Regions from separate parts of the Homo sapiens genome. Here all the other regions are reported to be linked to region 2. Evidence: microRNA targets listed by miRTarBase, many of them from high-throughput screens and not tested one by one. Region 2 holds a microRNA gene; each other region holds the end of a gene's coding sequence.
The links. Region 2 holds the annotated microRNA hsa-miR-4692 (UCAGGCAGUGUGGGUAUCAGAU, at 3,275-3,296, opposite strand). A microRNA usually pairs through its seed, bases 2 to 8, with sites in the 3' UTR of a target mRNA and lowers its output. Matches are read on the target gene's strand: a 7mer-m8 pairs with bases 2 to 8, a 7mer-A1 pairs with bases 2 to 7 and ends in A, and an 8mer does both.

Region 1: miRTarBase lists DTX2 as a target of hsa-miR-4692. Seed matches in the 3' UTR shown: 7mer-m8 at 3,416-3,422.
Region 3: the mRNA of DDA1 is a reported target of hsa-miR-4692. Seed matches in the 3' UTR shown: 7mer-m8 at 4,078-4,084, 7mer-m8 at 3,975-3,981, 7mer-m8 at 3,124-3,130, 7mer-m8 at 2,854-2,860, 7mer-m8 at 2,384-2,390 and 7mer-m8 at 2,195-2,201.
Region 4: the mRNA of AGXT2 is a reported target of hsa-miR-4692. The part of its 3' UTR that is shown has no 7-base or 8-base seed match.
Region 5: miRTarBase lists TNFAIP8L3 as a target of hsa-miR-4692. Seed matches in the 3' UTR shown: 7mer-m8 at 2,119-2,125, 7mer-m8 at 2,123-2,129 and 7mer-A1 at 2,462-2,468.
Region 6: miRTarBase lists NNT as a target of hsa-miR-4692. Seed matches in the 3' UTR shown: 7mer-m8 at 1,690-1,696 and 7mer-A1 at 1,224-1,230.

Annotation. Positions count from the first base shown.
Region 1 is chr7:76,503,695-76,509,167 of GRCh38, reverse strand. DTX2 (deltex E3 ubiquitin ligase 2) reads right to left here. Exons shown (of 11, transcript NM_001102594.3): 10 at 4,723-4,812; 11 at 3,177-3,794. The coding sequence ends at 3,567. It overlaps LOC124901675 (a long non-coding RNA gene), which reads left to right. Exons shown (of 2, transcript XR_007060388.1): 2 at 1-987. Among named protein-coding and RNA genes, the nearest start is that of UPK3B, 4.1 kb to the left of the region's middle. RefSeq lists a silencer at 29-234.
Region 2 is chr11:72,781,708-72,786,861 of GRCh38, reverse strand. It overlaps MIR4692 (microRNA 4692), which reads right to left and starts at 3,332; the gene lies at 3,270-3,332. All of the region lies in intron 1 of STARD10 (StAR related lipid transfer domain containing 10), which reads left to right. RefSeq lists silencers at 66-401, 4,872-4,991 and enhancers at 1-769, 3,821-4,523.
Region 3 is chr19:17,319,158-17,324,543 of GRCh38, reverse strand. DDA1 (DET1 and DDB1 associated 1) reads right to left here. Exons shown (of 5, transcript NM_024050.6): 5 at 1,246-4,998. The coding sequence ends at 4,888. ANO8 (anoctamin 8) reads left to right here. Exons shown (of 18, transcript NM_020959.3): 18 at 660-1,321. The coding sequence ends at 1,027. Among named protein-coding and RNA genes, the nearest start is that of DDA1, 12 kb to the right of the region's middle. RefSeq lists enhancers at 1-193, 981-1,030, 2,572-3,188.
Region 4 is chr5:34,995,009-35,000,481 of GRCh38, reverse strand. AGXT2 (alanine--glyoxylate aminotransferase 2) reads left to right here. Exons shown (of 14, transcript NM_031900.4): 14 at 1,656-2,380. The coding sequence ends at 1,763. Among named protein-coding and RNA genes, the nearest start is that of AGXT2, 50 kb to the left of the region's middle.
Region 5 is chr15:51,054,137-51,059,609 of GRCh38, reverse strand. It overlaps TNFAIP8L3 (TNF alpha induced protein 8 like 3), which reads left to right. Exons shown (of 2, transcript NM_001311175.2): 2 at 1,167-3,009. The coding sequence ends at 1,729. The region is part of intron 1 of MIR4713HG (MIR4713 host gene); the gene reads right to left. Among named protein-coding and RNA genes, the nearest start is that of MIR4713HG, 19 kb to the right of the region's middle.
Region 6 is chr5:43,703,979-43,706,978 of GRCh38, reverse strand. It overlaps NNT (nicotinamide nucleotide transhydrogenase), which reads right to left. Exons shown (of 22, transcript NM_182977.3): 22 at 1-2,724. The coding sequence ends at 2,575. Among named protein-coding and RNA genes, the nearest start is that of NNT-AS1, 100 kb to the right of the region's middle. RefSeq lists an enhancer at 643-812.

The DNA of each region.
Region 1 (5,473 bases), not on the chromosome of region 2:
GAAACAGGATCTTGCTATGTTGCCCAGGCTGATCTCTAACTCCTGGGAGGATCAAGCAAATCTCCTGCCTTGGCCTCCTAAAGTATTGGGATTACAGGCGTGAGCCACCGTGCCTGGCTATTTTTTTTTTTTTTTGAGACATGGAGTCTCACCCTGTCGCCCAGGCTGGAGTGCAATGGCGTGATCTCTGCTCACTGCAACCTCCACCTCCTGGGTTCAAGCAATTCTTCTGCCTCAGCCTCCCTAGTAGCTGGGACTACAGGCACCTACCACCATGCCCAGCTAATTTTTGTATTTTTAGTAGAGATGAGGTTTCACCAACTTGGCCAGGCTGGTCTCGAACGCCTGACCTCGCGATCTACCTGCCTTGGCCTCCCAAAGTGCTGGGATTACAGGCATGAGCCACTGCGCCCAGCTGCTAATTTTTAAAAATATAGTTTTTGAGGCTGGGTGTAGTGACTTACGGCGGTAATCCCAGCACTTTGGGAGGCCGAGGTGGGCAGGTCACTTGAGGTCATGAGTTCGAGACCAGCCTGGCGAACATGGTGAAACCCTGTCTCGACTAAAATTACAAAAATTAGCCGGGTGTGGTGGAACGTGCTTGTAATCCCAAGTACTCGGGAGGCTGAGGCAGGAGAATGACTTGAACCCGGGAGGCGGAGGTTGCAGTGAGCTGAGATCGCACCACCGCACTACAGCGTGGATGACAGAGTGAGACTCTGTCTCAAAAAAAATATAATAAAAATATATTTCTTGTAGAGACAGGGTCTCACTGTGTTGCCCAGCCTGGTCTTGAACTCCTGGCTCAAGGGATCCTCCTGCCTCAGCCTCCCAAAGTGCCCAGATTACAGGCATGAGCCACAGCGCCCAACAGCTTTTAGTATATCAACAAGGTTGTGCAACCATCACCAATTCCAGAACCTTCTTACTTCCCCAAAACGAAACACTACACCCATTAAACGGTAACTCTCCATTCTCCCGTCCCCAGTGACGACTAAGCTACTTCTTGTTTCCATGGTTTTGCCCGTAATGGACATTTCATAGGATGCAGTCACACAACATGTGACCTTTTGTGTCTGGCTTTTGTTACTTTTTCAAGGTTCCTCCTCGACTGTGATTGCTTCATTCCTTTTCACAGTTGAGTAATATTCCATCCTGTGAACGTATCACACTTTCATTCATCAGTGGATGCAGAATTTGTTTTTTTCCACTGTGGGGCTACTGTAAATAATGCTGCCATGAGCATCCGTGCGCAGGCTTCTGTGGGCACATTTTCAATTCTCTTGAGAATGTACCTAGGAGTGGAACTGTGGTCATATGCTAATGCTGCTTTCTGAGGTTCTGTTTGCCAAAGTGGCTGCATTTTACATTCCCAGTAGCAGTGGATGAGGGTCCCATTTCTCGACATCCTCTCCAACACTGCTTTTTGTTTTAGTATAGCCATCGTAATGGGTGTAGTGTGGCATCTCATGGTTTTGTTTTTATATATATTTTTTGAGACGGAGTCTTGCTCTGTCGCCAGGCTGGAGTACAGTGGCGTGATCTCGGCTCACTGCAACCTCTGCCTTCCGGGTTCAAGCAATTCTCCTGCCTCAGCCTCCCAAGTTAGCTGGAATTGTAGGTGCACACCACCATGCCCAGCTAATTTTTGTATTTTTAGTAGAGGGGGTTTCACCACGTTGGCCAGGCTGGTCTCGAACTCCTGACCTTGTGATCCTCCCGCCTCAGCCTCCCAAAGTGCTGGGATGACAGGCCTGAGCCACTGTACCCGGCCAACACTGGGGTCTTCTAGAGAGACCTCACTACCCTTTTTACCCTGGACCAACTTACCATTAGGCACAGTGCCCTGGGCCCACACTATAAGAGCTGACATACATTTTTAATTTCTTTTAAAATCAGAAGGGAAAAAAATGAACCTTTAGGTGAGAGAAAATCCTCTAGTATACATTAATATATTCATCTTTATACCAACATGTTGTAAAATAGGTTTAACAGAGAAAGGGGCTCACCAAGGCCAAAGTGCCTCTGCTTTCCACAGCCATGAATGAGGTGGCCCTACCGTCCCCCTCTGGTCCCAGGCCCAAACTACTCCTCCCGGACAAGCAGCAAGATCTTGACTGGGGATATCTGATCCTCCTTCCAAGAGGAGGAAGAATTAGAACTTTGAGAATGGTGTCAGATCAACCCTGGCCTGGATTCCACCTACCTAGCCAAGCATTCAATCTGTCTCTTTTTATTATGATTTTACAGATGGGATCTTGCTCTGTTGCCCAGGCTGGAGTGCAGTGGTGCAATCATAGCTCACTGCAGCCTTGAGCTCCTGGGCTCAAGCGATCCTCCCGCCTCAGCCTCCCGACCGCTGGGACTACAGACAGGTGCCACCATGCCTGGCTTATTTATTTATTTTTTTGAGACGGAATCTCGCTCTGTGGCTCAGGCTGGAGTGCAGTGGCACGACCTTGGCTCACTGCAACCTCCACCTCCCAGGTTCGAATGATTCTCCTGCCTCAGCCTTCTGAGTAGCTGGGATTACAGCTGCATGCCACCACGCCTGGCTAATTTTCGTATTTTCAGTAGAGACGATGTTTTGCCATGTTGGCCAAGCTGGTCTCAAATTCCTGACCTCAGGTGATCCACCTGTCTCAGCCTCCCAAAAGTGCTAGGATTAGAGGCGTGAGCCACTGCACCTGGCCTAATTTTTTTTTTAGAGATGAGGTCTTGCAATTTTGCTCAGGCTGGTCTCAAATGTCTGGACTACAGTGAGCCTCCTGTCTCGACCTTCTGAGCAGCTGGGATAACAGGCATGCGTCACCATGCCTGGTTCAAGTCATTGCACCTTTGAACCTGTTTCCACATCAGTAAAACAGAGACAGCAGCTCCAATCCTAAGTGAATGGCATTTTGTGAACCACAACCCCAGGGCCACAAAGGTGACAGCTGGTGCTCTGGGGTGACAGCCTCTGGCATGGCAGGGAGATCAGTGTAGGGCATGTGGAGGCCGCACAGCCCAGTACCGTGGGCTCCTCCATGCCTGGCTGTGGCCTGTTCTTCAGTTATCAAATGGGAGCCGATGAGCCCATGGAACCCCCTCTTGCTCTGATGCAGGAAGTGGGGGGGGGCACACACACACACAAGTGCGCACACACGCATGCATGCACACACTCAGGACCTGCTGGCTTTGGCTATAGAGCATTTATTGCAAACAAAATTGAGGTAAAAGAAGCTGACCCAGAACCCACGCCCGTCCAGGCTGGGGAAGTCTCTACTCGCCCCACACCAGGCCCCGAGCACCGCGGGCCCGAAGCAGCCCCCAGAGGACAGACGGGCCCTGCGCACTGAGGTAGCTGCATCCTAAGCCCCCATGAGTACAACTGCCCAGGGCTGCCCAATTCCCAGAGGGGAGGAGGAGAGAGAGGCAGGCAGGGGGAGCCCCGGCTTCAGGTGGGGCACACCCCACACCCTCAACAAACCTCCCAGCCTCTCGGGCTGGGCACTTCCTGCCTGGCCACCCAGCCAGCCATGGGGCAGCGGGGTGGCCACCAGAGGCGGGCGTGCTGGGGTGCGAGGTCACTGCTGCTCCAGGCAGTCCTCGGTCACCCCCTGGGCAGCCAGCTCAGCCAGCACGTTCTGCAGGTAGTTGGGGTCGGGATAGCCGTGGCCCGTAATGTTGCGGTCCATCTCTGTCTTGTGGTGGATCTCGTTCCATACCACGGTGTCCGTCTCACCCGTGGTGCTGGACGTGCCCACTGTGAAGATGAGCCGCCTCTTCCAGGCCACCTTCAGGAGCTCTAGGACCTGCCCGGGGAGGAGGAGGGGGAAGAGGAAGGAGGGGACGGAGAGTGAGAGGGGCTCAGTGAGCAGGCACGGGTTGGCACCATGTTCTTCCCATCCCAGCCCCTCCCAGGTGACTCATCCACTCCCTGGCACTCACCCCATCTGCAGGGACCCCAAAACTGCCCACTGGATAGTACATTAGGATCCCACATGAACCTGGGCTCCAGCCCACCCCGCCTCAGTGCCTGGCACTGCCATCCGTTTGGTCCTGATGCCCAGGCACCATGCTCGAGTCCTCCCTGCTTCCACAGCCGTTGCTGGACGAGCGCCCGCCCACCCACCCTCCCTGGTGGAATCCAGGCCTCCCTGCCCTCTCCCTGCCCTCTCCCCGCCTCCAGCTCCGCCACCTCAAGCCCATTCTCACACGGCCAGAGCTTTTCCAAAGCTCCATCAGCAGCTCCACCTCCGTGGCTTCGCTGGGCGCTCAGAACCAGCTCTACCCCTGGTGCTGGCCTGGGGGGCACCCTGTCTTCACACCCACACCACGGGCTCCCACTATCCTGCCTTCCTGGAAGGCTCGTCCCCAACCTTCTCTGCAGCCACAAAGTCCCTATTCATGTCTCAGTGCAGACACCACTGCTCCAGCCTTCCGTGGTCACCTGGTCTAACACAGCCCCCGGTCCCTGCCTGTCACACTCTGACTCTCAGGAGCTCCTGACCCCACCCGGCAGGGTGCTGGAAGGTGATGGCCTCTCCTCCTCCCTCGAGGCTATGTGAGGTCCAGGCTGCCCTCCCTGTACCTACAGCAGGTCCCCAGAAAAGAGCAGCAGACACTCGGCCCGGCCTCAGCCTCTGTCCTCCGCTGCAGAAGCAGAGTCCAGTGTGGCGCCTGGCCTCCTGCCGCCTGGTCAGGGCCCCGTCCACCCCCCGGGCGCATGGTGGCACTCACCTTGCGGCCCTGGGCGTTGTCTGGAAGGTAGCACTGGCGGGGAAACCCTCTGGCAGTGAACGGCTTTCCGGGATTGGGGTGCTCAGGGCCCTGCGGGAGGAACAGACACCAGGATAGGGTGCTCCGAGAGCCCGCACAGGGACAGGCCCCTGCACAGCTCCAGCTCCTCCCCCGCTCCGAGATGCCAACCCCGAATGTTCCTGAATTTCCCTCTGAGCTGTGGAGAAGTGGAGGGAAACCAGGGGAAAGGCTCATGGTTCAACAAGACAAAAAGATGCCTCCATCCACCACAGGTGGACCTTGGCTGGCAGCCAGTGCCCGCTGCCTGCTGCCCCGTTATCTTCCCACCCTGCCCCAGGCCCTACGATCCACCTTGGCTCAAGACAGGAGACCGAAAGGGCTAGGGCCCGTCTGAGTCTCCTCTGGGACTCTGGGGCCTTGTGCCTGGGCTCCTGACACCCACACGCCTGGCCCTGCCACTCCCAACCCAAGGTTCCTCGACGCACACCCTGCTGTGGCCCCGCTTCTCCAGCCCCTCCGCAGGGTTCCTCCCACTGAACTGCCTGCCCTTCTGCCCAGAACAAGTCCAGCTAAGATGGCTCCTCCTCTAGGAAGGCTTCCTTGGTTCAGGAAAGAGTGGAGGGCCAGCCTTTTGCTGCCACAGCCCTAAGAGCTTACCCTAAGCCCCGGCACTGCCTCCCCATTCCCGGCCCTCCATGGCTCTGGCCTTAGGGGACCTGGGGGCCTGAGC
Region 2 (5,154 bases):
GCAGTCTTCCCACCTTAGCATCTCAAAGCACTGGAATTATAGGTGTGATTACAGGTGTGAGCCACTGCACCTGGCTGTCGTCCTGTATTTTATCTGGCAACTCCACTTTGGTGCCATGTGTGGCCTGGCATGATCAAGTGTGTGTAGCTGTGTAGGTCTGGCCCTGTGTAATACCAAGGTGGAGTGTTTCTGTATGGGACTGTGACAGGACATTAGGAGAAGTGCAGGTGGGGGTGACCCTGACCTGCACTGACTTTGAGGCTGCGCACTACAGTGTGGCTCCCTGAGGCTCCAGCAGCTCCCTAAGGGCAGGTGTGAGCTGTTTGCTCAGTGAGGCCCAGCAAGGTATGAGACCCACCCTGGGCAAACACTTAGATCCGGCTCCAGGTGGGACTGGGATGGAACACCTATCGCCACTGTGAAGGACACATCCCTCTCAAGGCCGAGCCAGCCCTGGGGGCCTCAGAGTTCTTGGTGCTGAACCTTTTTTTTCCTTTTTTTTTTTAACTGGAGACAGAGTCTTGCTCTGTCACCCAGGCTGGAGTGCTGTGGCAACATCTCAGCTCACTGCAGCCTTGATCTCCCGGGCTCAAGCCATCCTCTTGCCTCAGCCTTCTGACTAGCTGAGACCTCAGGTGTGCACCACCACGCCCAGCTAATTTTTAAATTTTTAGTAGAGACGGGGTTTCACCATGTTACCCAGCCAGGTCTTGAGCTCTTAGCCTCATGCAGTCTGCCTGCTTTGGCTTCTCTAAGTGCTGGGATTACAGGTGTGAGCCACCGCGCCCGGCCTGCTGCACCCTGAGGGTCTCTGGAACTCCTCCTCCATGTCACTGCTTCCTGGTGACATCACACAGGTCACTGCCTAATCTTCTAGAACAGTGCCAGGACACTGCCTTGTTGCCCTGCACAACCTGTGAATTTGCTCCATCAAAACTGGCAGGCAGGGTTACCCCTGAGGAGGGGGTGGGGGAGAAGGGGTAGGGGTGGGACCCTATCATCTCCCAGAGGGGAGATCAAGGCAGCCATCATCTGTCGAACTAGATGGTGAGTAGGGGTGGGCATCCTGGAGCAAGGCTAGACTTTCAGGCCCCTCACTGTCCAGGACACTGGGCAGGTTGGGGGCCACCGAGGGAGGCTGACTCTTGAGGCTGAGAGAGGGCAGTGACCGTGTTAAGGTCACCGGCAGGCAAGTGGAAGGTGTGGTATGTAATACGGGGTGGGAGGAACAGGACCCTCAGGTTAGGAGCTGAGAGGCCCAGGTTCTTATTCCCTTTTTTTTTTTTTTTTTTTTTTTTTTTGAGACAGAGCCTCGCCCTGTCACCCAGGCTGGAGTGCAGTGGCCCAATCTCTGCTCACTGCAACCTCCGCCTCCCAGGTTCAAGCGATTTTCCTGCCTCAGCCTCCCGAGTAGGCTCCCAGGTGCGTGCCACCACACCTGGCTAATTGTTGTATTTTTAGTAGAGATGGGGTTTCACCATGTTGGCCAGGCTGGTCTTGAACTCCTGACCTCAGGTGATCCACCCGTATCGGCCTCCCAAAGTGCTGGGATTACAGGTGTTAGCCACCACACCCGGCCCCTAGGTTCTTATTTCTGCTTTGTCCCTGCTAGTAGGATCTTTGTTTCTCTATCTGTACAGGGAGGGGGTGGGGCCAGATGCCCTTAGTCTGAGGGGTCTTTAGTTCTGCTGTGGGGAGTTGAGGGGAGTGTTAGGGACCAGGTCATGGGGTGGCTGGCTCCAGGCAGGTGCCCTGACCCCTCCCCCAACAGCCATCAGGGGGTAGTGAACAAAAAGTCTGGTGTGACTCTTTCCAAGTGCTCCCTTCCCCGGTTGCAGGAGTCTAGATCAATCCTGAGTTACTGGAGTCCCCTTAGGGCTTCTGACTTGCTGTGTGATGCAGGGGTGCCCCGTGCCCCCCACAACCTCAGCTGCTCTGTCTGCGAGGGGCACGTGTGAGATCCAGGCCTGCCCAGTGCCCTGTGTAATGATGCCTCACATTCCCACGCCGCTTCTCAGTTTGTCAAGCGCCTTCTCGTACACAGTCTCACCTTCTATGCCCACTCTGGCTCCTGCTCCGTGATGCCCCATTCTGGAACTGGGACCCAGAGAGCAGCCAGACCTGGACTCTGGCCTCGGGGCTCAGAGAGACATCTCAATTCACTTCCTGTGGAGGGGACCATATCTGGGGCAGGGGACTGCAGTGGGCAGAGCAGGGGTCATGCTTTGCCAAAGCTGTTTCCATTGTTTGATCTTCCATGAGAATCAAAACTTGCCAAACCATCATGTAAAGATGTTACCTTAACACTTTTTGTTGGAACCATGCATTTTTGGACAGTGTATTCCTCCCTGCCCCAGTCACCCCCACCAGTTATATTTTTAGTTACTTATCTGGGGGTGAAACTGGCACATATACAACTCTTTTCCCTGCCACAATTCTCAGAGGATAGGTATTATTATTCCAGATGAGGAAACTGGGGCTCAGAGAAGGCCTGTCACCGGCTTCTGGTGACACAGCTAGGAAATCAGAGGGCCAGGATTTGAACCCAGCTCCACAGGCCCTTTGTGCTGCTAGGTTGTGGGTCCTCCCCAGACTCCTCTCCCAGAGCCCCTCCAGCCCTCCTGGGCTCATTCTTCTGCTCTGGAGCAGATGGGGCCCTTCTCGGCTGCTTAGGGGTGTTTTGAGAAGGATATGAATGGGCTTTGTCACGTTTGAGAGGTTTTCATGAGACCCAGAGCCAGAGATACTGAAATTCCTGGGAGGGGTGGCATTTGCAAGGGCAAATTAATGATGAGTAGAATGAGGTGATACCCTTCTACCCACCTGCTGGCGAGGTAGCCTGGCCTAAACCTAGGACCCAGGGGATGAGCCCAGGGCCTGGCTGCCTGCCAGGTCGCCCACCTTTACTGACCCAAGATCCAAAAGATTCTTGGTTCTTCTGTGTTTGGCTCTGAGTGATGGTTTCATTCTTGCCATCTGCACCTCTCTGAGTTTTTATCTCTCTGGCAGCTCTCTAGGGTGGGGAAGTCCTTCTATCAGTCTGCCCTCACTGCTACCTCCTGGCCTTGTCTTTTTTACCCTGGACTGGATGGTGGGTATGAGAGGTTTGCTGCCCTGGTACCTGCTATCTGCTGAGGTGTGTTTTATTGGGGCCCTAAAAAGGCAGGAGCCACCAGGCCAGTGCTGCCACCTCTTTTCCTCGTGGCAGATCCAAGAGGATACAGTTCACAAAGCAAAGCAGGCTTTGGCTCTAATGGGGTCCCCTTTGGGTTTTATCTGATACCCACACTGCCTGAGTGTCCCACCCAGGCAGTGTGGGTATCAAGTAAAACTGCTGAGGCCTGGGGAGGGGCAGTGACCTGCCTAGAGTTAGAGGCAGAGGAGGTAGATAGCAGAGAATCAGAGCCTGGGCATCCTGAGCCCAGAGCCAGCCCCCTGCCACCTACTCATTCCCAGACACTTTTCAGGAGTGTGGTTTAGAAGGGATGGGGTGATTATCTGACTGTGCCTCCCACACTGCAGATGGAAGGCCTGGAGATCTAAGGTCATTCACACAGGCCTCATGAGGACCTGCAGCACATTGTCCAGGATTCACTTTGCAGGATGCCCTTTAGGGTCACTTGCCATCATAGCTCCCCGCTCACCCCCACTCATTTTTAAAATGTGGCCTAATTTACAAACATCTCAGTGCTTTAAGCACTTCAGGAAGAAACACCTCTATTTGTGAAGCACCGTGACAAATCCTCGACTCCTCGTTTTTTTCTTAGCACATTTAAGAAAATCTGTTCCACCCTAGAGCTCTAGGCTGGTGAGGCTAGGAGGCACCTTAGGGTTATCCATTCTGATTCCCTTTTCTGGAAATGGAAAACTAAGGACCAGAGAGGAGGAGGCAGCGGGGCACAGACAGGAACGGAGGTGGGAGGAGGCTGAGATCTGCGTGCTGGTCAGGATGACCGTGGCAGGTTCTTGTTGGGCCCTGTTAGTTGCTCATCCAGAGGAGCTCACCACAGTCACTGCGACAGACTGCCACACTCACCCTGGCCTGGCCTCAGAGAAGTTGAGCTACTGGCCTCAGTTCACACAGAGCAGATGGAGGAAGAGCTGGCACTAGGACCCAGGGGGCAGGGGGGAGCCTCCCTGGCTGGAAGGGATGGCAGGAGCGCTGGTGCAGGTAGCTATGGAGCTCTGGCCAACTCTGCCTGGGGAGGTAAGAGAGCCCAGAGCCCTGGGCCAGATGCTCTTGAGAGCCTAGTCTAGTCCATAGCAGGTGTGCGTGTGTGCGTGCATGTGTGTGTGTGTGTACACGCGCGTTGTGTGCATGCTGAGAAGGGGTGCTGGTGGACAAGGGCCAGAGTGTGGGGCTGGAGGGAGTCCCGGTTCAAGCTCCCAGGTAGGAGTGAGACTGGGGTGGAGATTTTGCCCACATCTGGCCAGCTTGTGAACCTTGAGCCTTGTGGGTTGGATCGGCTTCCTGCTGGGTTTGCACAGCCCAGTGGGAATGGGGTTGGGTGTGTGTAGGCTTGGTGTGCCTCTAGCTTGGTGGGGGATGCAAGCTGTGGGCATCTCTGAGCTGCTGTGGGGCTGTCATCCCTGCGAGTTAGTCTCTTGATTGTCATGGGGGTGTGTGCCCATCTTTGGATCTCTGGGGTATTGCATGGGGGCGTCTCTGGGTTGTTCTGGGGACAGCGTGCCTGTGTGTAAATACTGTAGGTTGTTGCAGAGGTGTGTACCTGTGAGTATGGGAGGTGGTGGAGAGAAGGGGTTCACCGTTAACTTCCAGAATTCCTCTTCTTGCACCTCGTGGCCCTTCCTCGCAGAGCCCACTCTGTCTTGGCATCTCCTCACCCCTTTCCCTGTCCCCGCTGGGGACTTGCCCCTCGCGCGCAGGGTCCCCTCCCAGGGCCGGCGGGGGCGGGCGCTAGGACCCTGCGGGGTGGGGCGGGGCGGGGCTCGGAGATCCGTCAGCTTCACCTCCGCAGCCTGGAAAATCCCGAGCCGCGGCCGCCGAGCCCCCGAGCCCCCGAGCCCCCAGCCTAGCCGGGAGGGGCGCGCGGGGCTGGGGCCCGGGGCGGGGCCGGGCGGCGGGACCCACTGCTCCTCCCACCAGAGCCCCCGCGCGGCCCCGGGTCTCCCGGGCAGCTGCGGCGGCGGCGC
Region 3 (5,386 bases), not on the chromosome of region 2:
CCAGGGCCTTTGTTAGCCTGGAGCCCCGTGCCTGACCCTCCCCAGGGAGGGATGCCAAAGCCCCTTGTCCCAGGACTGCACCCAGGGACCCCCACCATGCTCCGGTGCCAGGAGAGATGAGGGAGGCCTGTTTCCCAACCAGCCCACCCTTCTCCTGCTCCAGCTCACTCTTGGGGGGGACTTGACCCCCCAGGCCTCTATGCAAATCCACACCCTGCAGCCCAGCTGTTCAGGAAGGCCTTCCTCGAGGTGGGGCTGGGGCTGCCCACCCAGGGAGCTCCCACATGTGCTGAGCAGAGGTGCAGGCCTCACCCCTACCCTCCCACCCCCACCACCTCCCCTGCCCCAATCCCAGCCTGGGCTCCAGCAACCCCATTCCCAGGGAGCCCAACAGGTGGCAGCTGCAGCACAAGGGCCATAGGTCAGAAGCCAGAGGGACTTCCTCAAACTGTCCTCCCCCTGTGACCGGCAGGGCCGTGCCCAGAGGCAGGGTATGCACCGGAAGCCGCCCAGGGGGCCGCCCCACCTCAGTCTCTGATCAGAAGCAATAAGGCCTTTATGTGCCTGGATGCCCGGGAGGGAGCGCGGGCAGGGTTGCCAGCCCGGCGGGGTCCGGCGGGGGCGGCATCCCCCCGGAACGGCCCCTCTCGCCTCCGCAGGGACAGCGCTGGCCCCCGTGGGCGCCCCTGCCCTCCGCACCCGCCGCAGCCGGAGCCCCGCGCCGCCGCCGCCAATGCCGCTGCCCCGGCCCCCGACACCGCCCGCAGGCTGCTGGCAGTGGGACGGGCCCTGGGGCTGCGGGGGCGAGGGTGCCGCCCCCCGCCAGGCCCTGGCCGCTGCCGAGTGCCCACCCTGTGCCATGGCCGGGCCCCCACCCGCCCCCCAGCCCCTGCCGGGAGACGCCAGCTTTTACAGCCTCCCGCCCCCACCGCTACCGCCCACCTCGGATCCCCTCGAGACCCCAGCGCCCTCCCCTAGCCCCAGCCCCAGCCCCCAGGCCGTGTGCTGGCCCAGCGGCTGGCATTAGCTCTACCCGCCCTGCCTTCTCTTCTCATATGCAATATCAGTCATTCACAGGGGCGGCCGGTCTCCAAAATGCAAAATGCGCTTCAGCCCCCGAGGGCCCCCAGTATTGGTCGGTGCCCCCCATCTGCCGTTTTCCTTTCCAAACGAAAGGAAACCCACAAATCCAACAGAAAACACACACACACACACACACACACACACACACAGAACAGGCGATTATTTATTTGTTTTTAATTTATTTTGTCATATTTTTGTAAAACGGCAGAAATGCAATAAAAACTATATTTCAACAGTGCCCGAGGTCAGAGCAGTGGAAAAGGGAGTGGGGGTGGGGGAGTCTGGGTGGCTGGGGCCTAGGTTGGGAACCCCCTCCCCCCATCCTGGTACAGGCTGGCTTGACCCATGAGGGCCTCCTCCCAAAAACTGGGTCTTGGCCACAGATGGAAAACTCCAGGCTGCGCCGCCTCTGAGACGGCCCAGATTTGGAGGCCAACTTCAGCCCTGGCTTCAGCCACTAGACAAAGGAAGGAATCTCTAAGTGCTGAAAAGAGGCGACAATGTGTGCACAGGCCCCAGTCCTGAGTAAGACTCCTTCTCAAAGAGGACAGCGCGGTGGTTTGCAAGACGTGGCCCCTTCTGGCACACCCGCCTCCTGGAACATCGTCTGGGGAGCCAGAGACAGTGGGAAGAGCTTGTGGCATGAACATCAGAAGGCACCTGGCACCTGAGCCTCCTGCAGTCCCCGACTTGTGATACTGAGAGAATGGCACATTTGGGTGTCCCCAGGACACGGGGTGGCATTGGGATGCAGCAGGGATGTCCCACTGTGGGACAGACATCAGACCCAAGTCACTGGGACTCTGTCGTATGACTCAGGAACAGGAACGTGGCCTCTCAGACCCTCACATTTTTCAGGAAGAGGACAAATGTGTCCACATCCAAAGGCTTAAGGCTCAGAGACCAACATGGCCATGCTGCAGGGCTGGGCCAGTGTGAGCAAGGGGCCCTTTGGGAGGCTGTGGAGAAGTCAGAGTTCACTGGAGGCAGGAGAACAGCCTGTGCAAAGGCGGAGAAGGTGGAAGGCAGTTTGGGGGAACAGTGGGGTAAAGGGGACCCCAAAGGCAGGAGGGGTAGACAGAGGCCGGCTCAGGGGCCCAGCGTCCTCCCACAGGCAGTGGGAGCTACACAGGGTGTGTGTGCCAGGTGGGGCATGTCCCGACAGACCCAGGGGTTCTAGGGGGAGGCCACAGGGAGGCAAGCTGGGGCACAGCCCTCAGACCCCAAAGGAGGGAGCTGAGGTAGGGGAGGGGAAGGAGGTGCCCGCCCAGCAGCCCTGCAGAGCGACGGGCAGACAGCACAGGCAGGAGACAGCCCCCAGCCACTCAAAGCAGAAACTGGGAGCCAGAGAGGTCTAGACAGGCCGAGGGGAAAGGCGGGAGTGCCCCCTGCTCCCACTCTGGCCCCTGGCCTTGGAAGCTGAAGTCCCACCATCTCAGTCATTCACAGATGGACACCGCAGGCCTGCCCAGGTCACACCAACCCTGGGGACTGGGACTCCCCAGCTGGCCTGGGAGCCTCCAGGGCATTCAGCCGGACCCGGCACCATCGACCGCAGTCAAGTGTGCATTTCCTGACCACCTGTCCTGTGACCACATGGCCCCTGTAGCACCATCACTGTGGTGTAGACACTGCCGGGAGCTGGGAGGTACAGCAGGGTGGCTGTGCTGTGCCTGGGCCTGGTCAGCCACTCCTTGTGTAGGACGGGAGCCCACCCTGGCACTCTCCGTCCTTGGGAGAGATGGGCCGCCTAGGCCCGAGGGTCTGACACAGGCAGGGCCCTCCACAGTGGAATCTGGGGCAGGCGGACCCTCCATAGCCCGGAGTGTCTGCTAGCTCTGTGGCCCAACCCTACACCATCCCAACGCCCTCAGACTCAGCTCTCAAAACAGAGACCTCTGCCAGGCACGGTGGTTCACGTCTGTAACCCCAGCACTTTGGGAGGCTGAGGAAGGTGGATGACTTGAGCCCAGGAGTTTGAGACCAGCCTGGGCAACATGGTGAAACCCTGTCTCTACAAAAAATTTTTAAAATATTAGCCAGGCAGCCAGGTGCGGTCACAGCACTTTGGGAGGCCGAGGCAGGCGAAGCACCTGAGGTCAGGAGTTCGAGACCAGCCTGGCCAACATGACAAAACGCCGTCTCCACTAAAAATAGAAAAATTAGCTGGGTGTAGGGGCGCACGCGTGTAATCCCAGCTACTCAGGAGGCTGAGGTAGGAGAATCACTTGAACCTGGGAGGCAGAGGTTGTAGTGAGCTGAGATCTTGCCACTGCACTCCAGCCTGGGAGACACAGCGAGACTCCATCTCAAAAAAAAAAAAAAATTAGCCAGGCATGGTGGTGGGTGCCTGTGGTCCCAGCGGCTTGGAAGGCTGAGGTGGGAGGAAGGCTTGAGGTCGAGGCTGCAGTGAGCTGTGATTACGCCACTGCACTCCAGCCTGGGAAAGAGTACAAGACCCCAACTCAAACAAACAAACAAAACAAAACAAAAGAAAACTGAGATCCCCACCACCACCAGTGGGGGCAATAAGGGGAGAAGCGGTGTTCCCCCAGCCCCAGGCTCAGTGGTCAGGGCCACAAACCTTCTGCCCAGAGCCCGAACACCCCTACATACCCAAGCTCAGCCCCAAACCCAGCCCAGCTGGCGGAAGAGGGGTCCCCATGAGCGGCCATGGCACATGCCAACTGCCAGGTGCCAACCTTCTGTACAGCTCCTCTATGACCCAGCAAGGGTGAGGCCACCACCTAGGACAGCAAGACCGGCCAGATGCCGTCTGTACTGTCACCATGCCTCAGGGGAGCAGCAGAGGCCAGAGACCCCAGGCCCCCGGATGAGGCCGGCCATCTCTGCGGTGTCTGACAGGTGCGCTGCCCTGCTTGGCGGTATCCCAGGCAGGGGGCTGACCCCGCTCCATCCTTGGCACCATGGACCGTCTCTCAGGAATGACCTGTCCTTGGGGTCACCTTGACAGGAGAGGCAGAGGGGATGGTCCAGGCAGGTCTTGGCCTTGAACATGGTGGCCTCAGCAAGCCCACGAGAGAATCCAGCCGGTCCTGGGGCCCCTGGCGTGGGGGGCCCTTCTCACTCCTCTTGGTGACAACAGGGATGACTCCCAGGGGCTCCGTCCTCTGCAGCCAAGGTGTGTGGAGCAAAGACGCGAGGTCAAGTAGGAAAGACCCTTTTATTGGGGTGGACACGGAGCACGCACTAGTCCATGATAAAAATAAAATGACTCAAGAGAAAGATCCCAAGGGCCGACTTCTCCCCAACGTGCGTGCACGCTGAGTGAGGCCTGGGCATGGGAAAGTTCCGGGCGAAGCGTGGGACAAGACCGAGTCTCAATGGCCTGGACCGGTGTTGGGGGGGAGAAGGCCACTCGGCTGTCCTGGTAGGTCAGGCCACCCCGGGCCCGCCCCTGTCGCCCGGCCACAGTAAAGCCCCCGCTAGAGACTCTCACAGACACACTCTGGTTCTCTGGAGAACTGGGGGCAGGAATCGGGGAACTGGCCCGATGGAAGGCGGGGGTCGGGGGGACAATGTTGTTTTTTTTAAAAAGCATCTACCAACATCACACTACTGGGTCTGATGTCCCCTTTAACCAACGCTTGATACAGGTTACAGCATAAATAAAAACTCAAGGAAAATAAATACATCGGCTCCTATGAGGTTGGAAGTGGTGTGGACGCAGGGTGTGGATGGGCCGGCAGGGAGGCGGGCGGGCGGGGTGCTTACACATGGCGGGCAGGCGGGTGGGCGACCGAGGAGCAGACCTGGCAGGAGGCGCCTGTGGAGTTGAGAGTCTTAAGTGTCCTCGTGCATGTCTGGGCTGTCGGTCCGCGCCACCTTGCGGGGAGGTGCGGAGCTCTCGCCTTCCAGCTCCACTTGCTCCTGGTCTCTCTTCTTGGCAGCGTTCTGGGGGACAGGGAAAAGAGAGGGGCTGTGAGTCTTTTTTTTCGGACAGCCTCAACCTTCTGGGCTCAAGCAATCCTCCCAGCTCAGCCTCTGGAGTAGCTAGGACTACAGGCACATACCACCACGCTTAATATTTTTACTTTTGGTAGACATGGGGGTTTCACTATGTTGCCCAGCTGGAGGCTGTGAGTCTTCACGTGGGTGAAGCTCCCAGAGTCATAATGCCAGCCCAGGCCCCTGCAGCAGCATCACAGAGGTAGGCCTGGAGTACAGTGGGGGGCCCCAGGGTCCCTGGCTAGGCAGCCCCTCCTACCACCAGGACCTGCCCCACTAAGCCCTGCCCAGAGCACTTTCTGGACCCATGCCTGGTGATAGACAGGTGTTTCCT
Region 4 (5,473 bases), not on the chromosome of region 2:
GTGAACCTGGGAGGCGGAGGTTGCAGTGAGCCGAGATTGTGCCACTGCACTCCAGCCTGAGCGACAGAGTGAGACTCTGTCTCAAATAAAATAAAAATAATAACAGTAATAATAATAAAAGGCAGGAGAAGGAAAAAGCTGCCCAGGTAGAGGCAGAAAGCGTGGACAGGTATGAAGAGAATAAGAAGAGTGTGAAGTCATGGAAGAAAGAGACAGGAGAGGTTCAGGAAGTGGGGGAATTCCAAAGAGTCAAGTGCAGAGAAGGCCAGAGAGAATGAGGGCTGGAAGATGACCAGTGGATTCCACACTTGCAGGTAACTTTAGTAGAGTGGTTGATGAGGCAGAAGTCAGACTGCAACCAATTGAGATGTGAATGGGGGAAGGGCAAAGTAATAAATAATGGCCAATAAGCACCAACCAGTCTTTTTAGTGATGTGGCTAAAAGCAGGAAGAAAGCATTTGCGAGGTAGCCATAGGGGACAAGGGGGTCAACAAAGATTTGTATTTGGTGTGGTCTAGATTGGGGTTATGAGAGCTTTAAGCCTGCTTGTTTATAGGCTAAGGGGAAGTTGAAGGGGCGTTTCCTGGAGTGAAGGAGATGGGAGAATCCAGGGTCAAGGGCATAGGTGGACAATTTGGAGTTGAACAGCAAATACACCTTGTTCTCTGAGCCTTTAGGAAAGTTTATAAAAATGGATGTGAGAGCAAACAAGTTTGTCTTGCGTGGCAGCTTCAATTTTCTGAGAAGTATGAGGCATGATTGTCTATGAAATAGAGGGAGAGGCGCAGGAGTTGAGTAAGGAAATTGAGAGGAATGATAAAGGTTTAGATTGAGAAAGGACGCTGACAATGAACAAGAAAAGTTGGGGTGACCCACAGAAGTTGGAGACCCTGAATATCTAGCGGCATCACTCAGCCTAGCTGTGTGATTTTTCTCTAACTCTTCTCAGCCATCTAGATTAGAAAAAAGCCATTCAATAAAATATTTCATTAGCGCTGGGATTGGCTGTGGTGTGGGTGCAGCAGAAAAAGGGTAGAAATGCAAGCAAAATGAGGGGCAAGTGTGAGCCTACTTCATTCAACTCTGCGTTCTGAGCTGGGTAGAAAGGAAGGAGGAGACCTGAGTGGAGCAATAGACCTGAAAACAATGGGTGAATGAGGATTCTGAAGTCTTCATGAAAAGGAAAGCTGTAGTGGGAATCAGAAATTGAGTTGTTCCTGGTGAAGAGGAGGCTCATGGCATTGGCCATGGGTATGAATGGTTGCAGAAGGGTGGACATAAAGATTCTGGGAGTTGTGGCAATAAGGGCAGTGAGAAGTGAGTTTGCTGGGTTGCACATATGGACATGGAAGTCACCCTGGGCAGAAATGGAGTATAGCGAGGGGCCTAAGACTTCAGTGAAGGTGTAGAATGACCAGGAGGTAAATGTATGACAAAAAGGAAAAGGGGCAGAGCCAAATTGTACAAGGGTTTGTATGGAGACTGGAGGGTGAATGGCCTGGATTCAGCATTGGGGATGGAGGAGGAACCAAACTGAGAGAAACATGAGAAACATCCTAAACACAAGGTTTTGGATTTTTAGTTTAGTGCATTTCCTCAAAGTCATATTTGATTCTCTGATGATTTGTTTTCTTATTTTTTGGTGTCTCCTCAGACATTTCGCATTGCGCCCTCAATGTGCATCACTAAACCAGAAGTTGATTTTGCAGTAGAAGTATTTCGTTCTGCCTTAACCCAACACATGGAAAGAAGAGCTAAGTAACATTGTCAGAAATAAATAAAACCACAAGTCTCAAGAATTTGCCACGTATGTTCAAGGGTGAATTTGAAGAATTTCAGAACCACTGGTATCCAGAGAAAGCCTGCAGCTCTCCACAGGAGCTGTAAAAGTCATGGTTGACTGCCTACCAACCATATTTGTTAGCAGAGCCCCTCTTATCTTGAGAACTCCATTCTTCAGGGAAAGGATCTCCCTAGCTCAGAGAATAAATCCTAATTAGTTTATGTTAGGTATGGTAATTTGATTCCCCTTTGCAGTGATTGGTTTATGCATGAATATGTGATGTATTTTTGTCCAGTGAATCTTGAAGAAAAATCTTTTGGTGGAGGTGCCTTCAGGGAAAGTTTTCTTCACCCTCACTCTTCAGTTCAAGAAGAGATGTCTTCTTGTTGCGCTGAGAACACCATATGTTCATGACGAGATTCCTGGCACCATGTCAGCCGGCTTGTAGTCATGAGGACAACCCTTTTTGGTGAGGTTGGAAGATGGATGGAAGCCAAGTGCTTAGTGATGTCAAAGAAGCACTCACTTAAGCATTCCTGGAGCCACCCTACCTCAGGGCCTCTTGATATTTGAGGTAATAAATTCATTGTTCTGTATAAGGCTTTTTTATTTTTCACTGTTACGGTCAAAAGCATACTGAGAAATGAGGCAGAAAATACTCCCAAAGAAAGAACAAGTTCCCTCTCCTTTAACTCCCTTAAAACATCTGTCAGAGCCTTCTTTTCTGGTCCTTACCTACTACCACATCCCACTGTGGTCTGAACCCTTATTACTCCTATTGCAATACTCTCCAAGACCATAATTTCCCAAACTTTAGTCATTAGAATACACAGTTATATAATTTCTCCATAGAGGCACACCATTTGTCTTAGGTTTATTTTTCCTTAATTTGACTTTTTTTTTTTTTTTTTTTTTTTTGAGACGGAGTCTCCCTCTGTCGCCCAGGCTGGAGTGCAGTGGTGCGATCTCAGCTCACTGCAAGCTCTGCCTCCCGGGTTCAGGCCATTCTCCTGCCTCAGCCTCCCTAGTAGTTGGGACTACAGGTGCCCACCACCACGCCCAGCTAATTTTTTGTATTTTTAGTAGAGATGGGGTTTCACTGTAGAGATTGAGCCAGGAAGGTCTCAATCTCCTGACCTCGTGATCTGCCTGCCTCGGCCTCCCAAAGTGCTGGGATTACAGGCGTGAGCCACCTCAGCCAGCCAATTTGACTTTTTTTACCAAGATGTGTAGTAAACTTTCTGTAATTACAATAAATGATAAATCAATCCTACTTGTCGTAAGTAGAAAGTAACCATAAAAACAGAGTGAACAGAAAACAATGTAATTCAGTTTTAGCAAGATGCAAGTTTTTGCAAAGATTCTCAGCCTGAGTCCTGTTCTTTCTTTGTTCAAAAGGGAGATTAGAGAGTACTCAAAATGCCAGGTGAGGTGGCTCATGCCTGTAATCCCAGCACTTTGGAAGGTCAAGGCAGGCGGATCACTTGAGCTCAGGAGTTCAAGACCAGCCTGGCCAACGTGGTGAAACCCTGTCTCTACTACAAATACAAAAATTAGCCAGGTGTGGTGGCGCATACCTGTAATCCCAGCTACTCGGGAGGTTTAAGTTTGAGTTTTATTGTTTCCTTTTCATATTTTACTAAATTCCTAAATTGTGTTTTCAGTGTTCCTCCCTTTTCCGTTATCTTAAAGGAAAAGGAATGTTGGAAGTAGAGGGCTCTGAAGAAGAACTGGAAAGTAAGTATTGACTTTCTTGTTCAATGTCCCTGACCCTGTAATTGTCACCAGTAAAGAGGAGAAGAAGAACATTCCAGGCAGAGTGAACTATAGAAGCAAAGAACTAAGGTGCATGACATGGAAAGAATGGTGGAAACAAAGCTCAAAAAGCTTGTTTGCGGACAAGGAGGCGGTGGTTGCAGTGAGCGGAGATCGTGCCATTGCACTCCAGCCTGGGTCTGTCTCAAAAAAAAAAGAGAGAGAGAGGGTATTTGAAACATGTTAAAAATACACTGGCAAACTGAGACCTTCTCTTGAAGAATACAAATAGAATAGGGTCTGGAGACCTGAAGGGAAATCACTTTCTCAGCATGTGATTGAATGCGTATCAAAAGTTGTGTTTCTGTTTGAAGCTAATTGTCCTCATTTTCTAACCCCCCCACCACCAGGTGTCTGTTCTGCTGACACATCCTACACCTCACTGCCAGATTTGTTTCCATTAAGCATTAACTGAAACATAGCATTCCCTGGCATAAAACCTTCCAGCAGCTTGCCATTAACCCCAGACGAGGTCAAAACCCTTTAACAAGGAGCTCAATGCTGCCTAGTATCCAATATCCAAATAGAGCAAATACTCTAGAAATGTTCTGTTTGGGCACAGTAGAAAGATCATTGGAATAAGAGTCAAATGACCTGAATTCTAAATCCAGTTCTTCCCCTTATTTGCTATAATTGACTTTGGGCCAGCCTTTTAACTTCTTTTTAACCTCGGTTTGTTCCCAAGAGTATAAACTATTTGCCCTTCCTACCTTCCAGAGTTGCCTTGGAAATAAAGTGACCCCGTGGATGTAAAAGTGCTTTGCAAACCAATGACCTAGAGAAATAGAAACTTCTTCCTTTCAAGCCACATTTCTCCTCTTTCCTTCACTACAAAATCTTTCTCAAGAGCAGTTTTTGTGCCTCACTTATACGTCTTTGCCTCCTACCCAAGCCCCAACCACTAGGATTTCATTCCTGTTTCTCATTCCTTGGAAATGCCTTTTCAGAAGGCACCTGGTGACTTCTTTATAATCGAAACTTAATGTTTCCTTTAAACGGTCTTTCTGAACAATTGCTACTTCCTTCGTTAGCTTCTGCAGTGTGGTCCTTCTATCTCGGATGGCTTTCTCAGCCTCTTTTCTGGCAACTCCTCAACTATAACGTTCCGTCCTGAGCTGTCTCTTCTTCCATGCTATACTCTCTCCCTATAGGCAACCTTGTCCACTTCTGAAATTTCACCTATCTTGACTATGCTGAAGACTTCCAAATATTTATCTCTAGTCTCAACCGTTTTTCTGAGCTCTAACCCCAAAATTCTAGCTCTCTGGACTCTGTCATTTAGATGTCACAGGAACACTTCAAATTCAACAGACTTAACACAAACTCTACTAAATACCTCCTCCAAGAATCCCTTCTTTATTAATGGTACCCTTTTAATCTCAGGCTCATAATGATTTAGATCATTTTTCCCCCAAGTTATCTTTCTGCCCTTTATATGACTAAGTCTCATGAATACCTTCTCTGACATAATTTTTTCCAGTATGACCCATTTATACCAAAACTGCCTTAATTTGGACCATCATCTCCCTGAACTATTTAAACTGCCTTCTAACTGGTATCCTGGACCTCTTCCCATCCTTCCTCTACATTGATACCAAAGTCCTTTACTTAACAAATAAATATGATCATGTCTCTTGTCTCTTGAAGCATTTGGGGTTTCCTATTGCCCAGAGAACAAAGTCCAAACTCCAATTATTATGGCATTCCAGAGCCTTCACAATTTGTCTCCAAACAAGCTTTTTGAGATTTATTTCCACCATTCTTTCCATGTCATGCACCTTAGTTCTTTGCTTCTGTAGTTCACTCTGCCTGGAATGTTCTTCTCTTTGCCAGTGAAAATTACAGGGTCAAGGAGATTGAACAAGAAAGTCAAC
Region 5 (5,473 bases), not on the chromosome of region 2:
AGACATTGCCTCTGTCCTTGGGCAATTTGAATCTCCTTGGGAAGATAAGAACAATATACATACATACTGTAGAGTGAGGATAGCCAGTGGGTTTCATTTCAGATGTCAGCTCCAGCTAATTGGTGGCCTTGTAGAGTATTTCATCAAATCAAAACACCATCAATTGTAAGATGCCATTTTATGTGTTCTTAAGAAAAAAATACGCTATAAATTATGAACCATTTCTTTCTTATTAGTTAGAATTTTTATTTATACTTATTGAAAGAGGCTTTTTAGACTTCTTTGCATATAATATTGTGGATTTTTTTAAACATATATTGCTCTCATTCATTCATAAAGTAGAAAATAACAGCAAAATAAATTGGGTCTGGTTTTCCTAAGCTGCTTCACCTTCAGAGTACTACTCATCTCTAGCATCTTTGATTTGGAGTTACTGATGTCTGTGTTCCCACAGTACAACTCTCTATGCCATCAAGAGTATTCAGGAGGCAACATTTCTTACAAAAATTTCTCTTGACTTTCTCCCAAATCTCTGACAACTTTTGTGTAAATTGATGTGCACACAGGTAATAACAACCACAGCACAACAGCTACCTGGCAACAGTAACTGAAAGACCCATCCAATTTTCAATATTTCAAAAGCAAAAGAATACCTCTTAGACCCAATGATATGTGGGTTCTGAGACTCAGTCAAAATGACTGTCATGATCAACTATCCATGTCTGCCCTGGGAATGGGGTTGACAATGGGGCTACATTCGTGCCATTAAGCAATAATTTGCTCCTGTATAGTTTGCAAAGCTGAATGGTTTCCAGCGTGACAGCAGTGGTAGAGTGTTCTCTGTGAGCTAGTAGAATCAGGAAGGCTTTATGAATGAAGTAGGTTTAAAAAGGTAAGATTTGGCCTGGATAAGAGGAGATGACCTCCAGCAGAGGAAGGAGCATAAGCACAGTTTAGAGGATTAAAAAGGGTAAACAAAGCATATCATGTGGAGAGGAAAGTGGGGGAACCAGGCTGGGGTGGGGTTTAGTTAGGGAGCGAGGGAATATAAAGACATGAGTTTTTGCTCTAAGAACATAAGTTCAAGTTAGTGTGTTTTACTTGTGGAAAAGTAACAGACAGTTCTTATATTTCTAAAACTTTTATATATATTTTTTTTACCATAGGTCCTGATGTTTTTAGTTCAAAGAGTCTTGCGCTTCAAGCCCAGAAGAAGATTCTGAGCAAAATAGCCAGCAAAACTGTGGCCAACATGTTGATTGATGACACCAGCAGCGAGATCTTTGATGAGCTCTACAAAGTCACCAAAGAGCACACACACAACAAGAAGGAAGCCCACAAGATCATGAAAGACTTAATCAAGGTGGCGATCAAAATCGGGATCCTCTACCGGAACAACCAGTTTAGCCAAGAGGAGCTGGTTATTGTGGAGAAGTTCCGGAAGAAGCTGAACCAGACCGCCATGACCATTGTCAGCTTCTATGAGGTGGAATACACCTTCGATAGGAACGTGCTCTCCAATCTCCTGCATGAGTGCAAGGACCTGGTGCATGAACTGGTGCAGCGGCACCTGACGCCCAGGACCCACGGGCGCATCAACCACGTCTTTAACCACTTTGCCGATGTGGAGTTCCTCTCCACCCTCTATAGTCTGGATGGAGACTGTAGGCCCAACCTCAAGAGGATTTGTGAAGGAATCAATAAGTTGCTAGATGAGAAAGTCCTTTAAATGCCTTCCCTCCTACTGGACTTTGCTGCTTTAAAGTTACAGCACTCAACCATGATCTGGGTGAGAATCAAGAACATAAGCAGAAACCCTTGTCAAAGATGTCCATGTTCTTTCCTGTTCATCCCTCTGATGCTGATTCTGATGCTGAACTGAGCTCAGGTGTGTTTTTCTTCCAAGCTTTCTAGCAAGGTTTCTACTTAAAATCACCTGTGTGCAAGCCCAAAGGACATTTCATCTATTCTAAGCAGAAAGGCTGTTTTGTTCATTACAGTGAGTGCTGTTCATCTCATGGAGTGGGAGGAGCACTAAACCAGGAGACAGAGGACATGGATTTGGTTTCCAGCTTAACCAGTTAGGACTCTGTCCTCTGCATTCTGGAACCATGATGCCTGCCTGCCTGCCTCACAGGGCTGTTGTGAGGACCAGATGAGATGATGTATGTTCATACTTTTGGAATCTCTAATTTAAAGTCTTAATATTTTGTCTTCTGAGTGTGAGGGGATAAACCTGGATGTAGACTATTAAGCAGCATAGGAGAAAAGAACAATAGAATCTAATGGACTGGGTTTGCAATCTCTCTCTAAATGCACTGCTTCAGACAAAGTGAAATCCAAAGGTGTGAAAAAGTATAGCTGCAAATTGGAAAAATGTGTTTCAAGAGTCGTCTTTTTGGCCAGGCATGGTGGCTCACACCTGTAATCCCAGCACTTTGGGAGGCCGAGGTGGGCAGATTGCCTGAGGTCCGGAGTTCAAGATCAGCCTGGCCAACATGATGAAACCCTATCTCTACTAAAATTACAAAAATTAGCCAGGCGTGGTGGTACACGCCTGTAATCCCAGCTACTCAGGAGGCTGAGGCAGGAGAATTGTTTGAACCTGGGAGATGGAGGCTGCAGTGAGCTGAGATCACGCCACTGTACTCCAGCCTGGGCAACAGAGCAAGACTCTGTCTCTAAAAAATAATAATAATAATAATAATTTTTTTAAAAAGAGGTGTTTTTGAGGTCTTAGATGTTCAGGTTGATGATCCTGCAGAGGGAAACTTTCCATGGGGGGGTGGGGAGAGAGAGTTTTCCATCCACAATATAGAAACAGAGAAGCACTGTGCTCCCTCTGCAGGACCAGCCTTCCCTTATCTAAGGGGCATGGAGCTCAGGGAGGCTTTATTCCATATGCACGGGAGAATCAGGCAGAATGAACCCCTACCCATCTTTCTTGGCTTTTCAGTCATTTTGTGCTGTTTTCTCTGGTTCATTAATAAATTGAAACTGCCCTCCAAACAAGAGATCTTAGAGTTGTGATTCAAAATAAAATTCCTTGGAGTTAAATACAGTGTTAAGAATAACAGGATTGAAAAGAAGAAGAAAATGAAGAGCAAGAGTTCTGCACTCGAACCCCAAGAGGAGGTAGATTCAGGGGAGCACAAGTGGGTGGATCTGTGAGATGGTCAGTGGGGAGCTAGTCCACAGACACAAACCACCTTCTCCAAATGTCACAGCCTTGCTTTCACAGTGCAGCTTCTGACATCTTTTCATCATAGTCTTAACCAACGTCAGCAACAATGTACTTCCTTTCAACACTGTGCCACATTAAGAGACTTGCTCCTCTTGCCTTTCCTTCCATCCTCCTCTGCTTCTCTTCTAATGATAATATAAAAATACCATACTAGCACAGCCCTATGGTTCATCCCACCCCACAGTCTATCTCCAGCAGGAGCATCAAGAGATGGTTTGTGGGGAGGTGTGAAACAATGTCCACTGAGCCTCGCTGGCCATTCAGCCTCAGCTGGCTCTCATGTCAACATCATAGCAAACCATCTAGTTACGTTCTTCAGCCACGCAGCCAGAATTAGTTCATAGGAAGGCTATTCAGTATGGAATATGGAGGAGTAAGGCCAACCCCTGTTCTCCATATTGGACAAACATGGCCTAGCCCTCTACTCAAACCCAAGGGCTGAACAATGATGCCCTGTGCACACCTGGGCTGGGGAGATGGCTGGTCATTTGGCACTGCTGGTGGGAACTACAGGCAGTTGGCTCCCCTTCCTTCCCACCTGCCTGCAAGGCACCAGTCCAGCAGTGCTGGATTTTCTCATGCTGTCTTCAAGGTTTGCCTTGATGTATTTATCTGACAAAAGACTGTTTTCTTGTTCAAAAGATGGTTCTAGAAGTAGGTTCACTGTTCATTAAGTGGACCATTACAGAGAACTCGGACCCAAGAGGAATGAGTGAACTTGTCTTCTGTCCGTGTGAGATACAGTGGGGAAGAAAGCAGGATCCTCAGCTAAAGAAGGTGTTGGGTTCTCTCCTGGCTCTGCAGGCCACAGCACAACAATGGTGTAGGAAGAAGGCTGAGTTGGGTTCTGACAGCCCACAAGTCTCTAAGGAAACTGGGTCCTTTCTGCTTTGGTCAAGGAAGGATCAGCACCTCCACCAGTGAATCTCACCAAGTGCAATGGCAGAGTGTGGACCAAAACATTTTCTGTTACCTTAGGCTCTCCGCTGAGGGAGCCAGTGGGCTGTCTACCTAAGACCCCCAGATTTAGCAGCAGCAACCAGTGGGGATCTGGGCTACCTGGGCACAAGAACTCCTCTAAAAATACAAAGCCAAAACCAATCCCATGTGCACATTTCAAACATACGATTTGCATCTAAATCAAGTGATTCTTGAATTTCATCAAGCAGCTGAAAGGCCTACAAATTTCAAATATTTTACATAACAGTCTAGTGACCAAAGCTAGCTTCTCATTATACAGTCCTATTGGTTTATCCTAAGTACTCTAACCACATCACCTGGTGGCCCTGAAAGGCTGTTTTGGCTGAAAAAAATGTGACAGAGGCCAGCAGATGCTTTGGAAAGCAGGACTCTAGATGTGAATTTGTGCTCAGAGCTCTGTACAAAACTCTCAATATGAGAACCCACAAAAGCAGAGTTAGAATAGCTACATTTTTAGGTCCCCAATAACAAACATATCATTTTGCAAAGTGATGGGAAAGTAATTTCAAAAGAAGCAATGGTACAAGATGGCTCAATTGATCTAGCCCCACACAGACTTCAGACAGCAATGCCTGATTCAGCAAACCAGGTAGGGGTGTGACATTCTTTAAGGCTGAGGAGTGGCAGGAGCAGCTTGCATCAGTCATCTGGAAACATCACTGGGTCTTCAACCATCCCTGAACACTCAGCTCTGTCCCCACAGGAGGACACCAGGGACTTGTGCTGAAATCCTCATCAAGCCCTTTTGTGCGTGTCCTTCCTCATATATCTGAGCCCTGCAGAAACACATTCCCTGCCAGCTGCCACCTGCCATGTGTCTGTACCACTCTTCTCTGTGTTTGCATCTGTGGGTCTTGACACCCTCAGTAACTCCAGGTCTCTGCTCAGTGACAAAATGAAAAGACTTCTCCATCTGTGCTTCTTCAAACTCTCATCTCTCCCATCTGTACATTTTATAGAATCAAATCAGTACATTCATTGGCTGCTCCAATGAACTTATTGCATCCATTTATATTTTAAAAAAGAAAAGAGCTCAAATCAGGCCTATGTGCCCTCTGTCCCAATATCTTTTTTTAATTTTTTTACTTTTTAGAGATAAGGTCTTCCTCTGTCACCCAGGTTGGAGTGTAGTGGCATGATCACAGCTCACTGAAGCCTCAAACTCCTGGGCTCAAGCAATCCTCCTGCCTAAACTTCCCGAGTAGCTGGGACTACAGGTATGCACCACCACGCCTGGCTAATTTTTTT
Region 6 (3,000 bases), not on the chromosome of region 2:
CCCACCCCATGACAGGCCCTGGTGTGTGGTGTTCCCCACCTTGTGTCCAAGTGTTCTCATTGTTCAATTCCCACCTATGAGTGAGAACATGCAGTGTTTGGTTTTCTGTCCTTGCAATAGTTTGCTCAGAATGATGGTTTCCAGCTTTATCCATGTCCCTACAAAGGACATGAACTCATCCTTTTTTATGGCTGCATAGTATTCCATGGTGTATATGTGCACATTTTCTTAATCAAGTCTATCATTGATGGACATTTGGGTTGGTTCCAAGTCTTTGCTATTGTGAATAGTGCTGCAATAAACATACGTGTGCATGTGTCTTTATAGCAGCATGATTTATAATCCTTTGGGTATATACCCAGTAATGGGATTTATATACATTTTTTGCTTAGATGAGTAATTTAAACACAAACTCCTAATTTAAGACAAATGAGAAAATAAAGGATAGTTAACAAGCCCTTAAAGACAAATCAACATTAGCATTTCACTACCTACAGATAATTTTTTTTTTTTGGTGACAGACTATAAGGTACAATAAATTTTTTTAATTATTTATACTTAAATATCATAAAGATATAGTGAATAATACAAAAATAAAATAAGTCATATCTACCAATTGTATGACTTATTGGAAAAAGAGGAATAATGAAATAGAATGTATAAAAATCATTTTTGTTGTTTTTAGATTTTTGCCATAATTTATAATCTAAGTCCACTAACCTTTTGGAATATTAATTTAAGAAATTATATATACAAAAATCCTTTAAATATCCTAACCAATAAAGTAAAATAAAATGAACAGGGCATGAATTTTCAATTCATTTAACACAATTGATGACAAAGGATTGGCAAATAGCAAAGAATAAGATAATACTAAATAAAAATATATATAAATTAAAATTTTTACTATGACAAAAATAAATAAAATCCAAGTATGATTATTTTTAGTTTAAACTGAGTGCAGGAACTACCTTTTCAAGAAATCAAAATTGCTTCTTTCTAGATATAACTACAACTACTTTGAGAGAAGAAAAAGGGCAGGAATAAAGATGGTGTTTACTTTCTTCTAATAGAATATACATGGTATAATTCAGCCCTGAGTTTACTAGTGATCTAAGATCAATTAACAAATTGCATTTATCACTTAAAACTTTTAAAAAAGTCTTTTCTGCTTTAACACACAAACGCACACACACACACACACACATACACAGATCTTAATCTCAGGCACAGCAAAATAGAAACTGATTATAAAACCAAAAGATACTGTGTGTTTTAAACTCACTAAACGCGAGCATTACAGTAACAAAATTTGTACTACTTCTTTTTCTGGTTTAGAGATTGTCTTTCATGTGTTAATAATTTTTTGAGAAACTTAGTACCAAACTAATTATATAGAGAGACAAATAATCTGAGTATTCATCACACATTCACCTATATTTAGAGCTTTAGGCACGATAGCAAAGTCACAAAGAAAATCTACACTTCTATAAAAAGACATGATCTTTACTGGTGCTTAAATGAACAAAGAGGTAGCTAAAAAAAGCCACCATTTCTCTCAAATGTCATCAATTACATAAGACCTCAAAACACACACTGATTTGAAAAAAAATCCATCCGTATTATAAACAGTGAAGACAGATTAATGTCATCTATTTCATAGTAGCAGGTCTTCCTTGATATTTGTAACAGGCAGAAATATTTGATTTTACTCTTTTGTCACCAGAGATAATTGCCACATCACTTGCCAACATGATGAACTCATTTTATTAGTCAAATGTTGAATTCCACTCAAGTGCACTTAATATAGTACTACACATTATAAGTTGATCGAAATTAAAGAGATCTCCAATTAGAAATGGGATCTTCAAAAATACTATTACTAATTTTCAAGTTGTATGTTTCATTGGTATTCTAATGAAACATATAAAGCAAATGATTTGTTTCCAGCATCTCTGAAAGATTATTTAGTCCTTTAATGTATTAAAATAGTAGTGAGAAAATGTGCCCTTGAAATATAGACTCTGAAGTACAATTTAAAAAATTAAAACTGATTTGATATGATTAATTCAAACTGCGGTTGAATTGCAAGGGGACAGCTCAGAAGTTCATAAAAGTTTCAAATTAGTCACATTTGTTGAAAAAAAAAACATAAAATGCAGGTGCCTGCAATGTTTACATTGTGTCAGATATTTCAGAGCCATGTATAATGTTGTCTTGAAATCCTAAACACTTAGTTTTTTAAAACATTTCTGGTTACTGAGGAGGCATAAAAAATCCAACAGGACTACATCTAAAATGAGGCTGTTCTTTCTCCTTTTATAAAATACTTTTGATTCCTAACACAAAAAATATGCACAGAAAGACATTTAGAATTTTCAATCCTTTTTTAAAATTGAGGGATTACTGCTTTTGAAAAATCTCTCTATACAGTTTTTGCTTTGCTTTCTTCAGTCTTCATTTTCTCCAAGAGCTTTGCTACAGATGTACATCACCATGTATACTGATACTTTATTTGCCTGTTCCCAAAACTGCAGAGGTGGCATTATTAGCTAACAGCTTGATCCTTAATATTTACTTCTGATAGGATTCTCTAACTTTCGCCTGGAGCGCGTCACATGTTTTCTTGGCATCACCTAGAAGCATGGCCGTGTTAGGTTTGTAGAAGATTGGATTGTCCACTGCAGCATAGCCAACACCCAAAGACCTCTTCATAACAATCACCTGAGAACCAGAGATTAAATGAGAGAGTGTATTTAACAGACCAACCTAGGACATGTTAGGCAAACAAACATTGCTCTTCACTACCTTTGAACAAGGCATGTACCACTACTAATTCTTTAGTGCAGGGACTTTAAAAATACACAAGAAATATTTTTAACATATGTTTACATTGTATTAACTTTAATACTTAAGTGTGCCCTTATTCTTATATCCATTAGAGAAAAAGTCATGTTAATAATTTATCTCTGAGTGATAAGATTACAATTATTTTCTTCT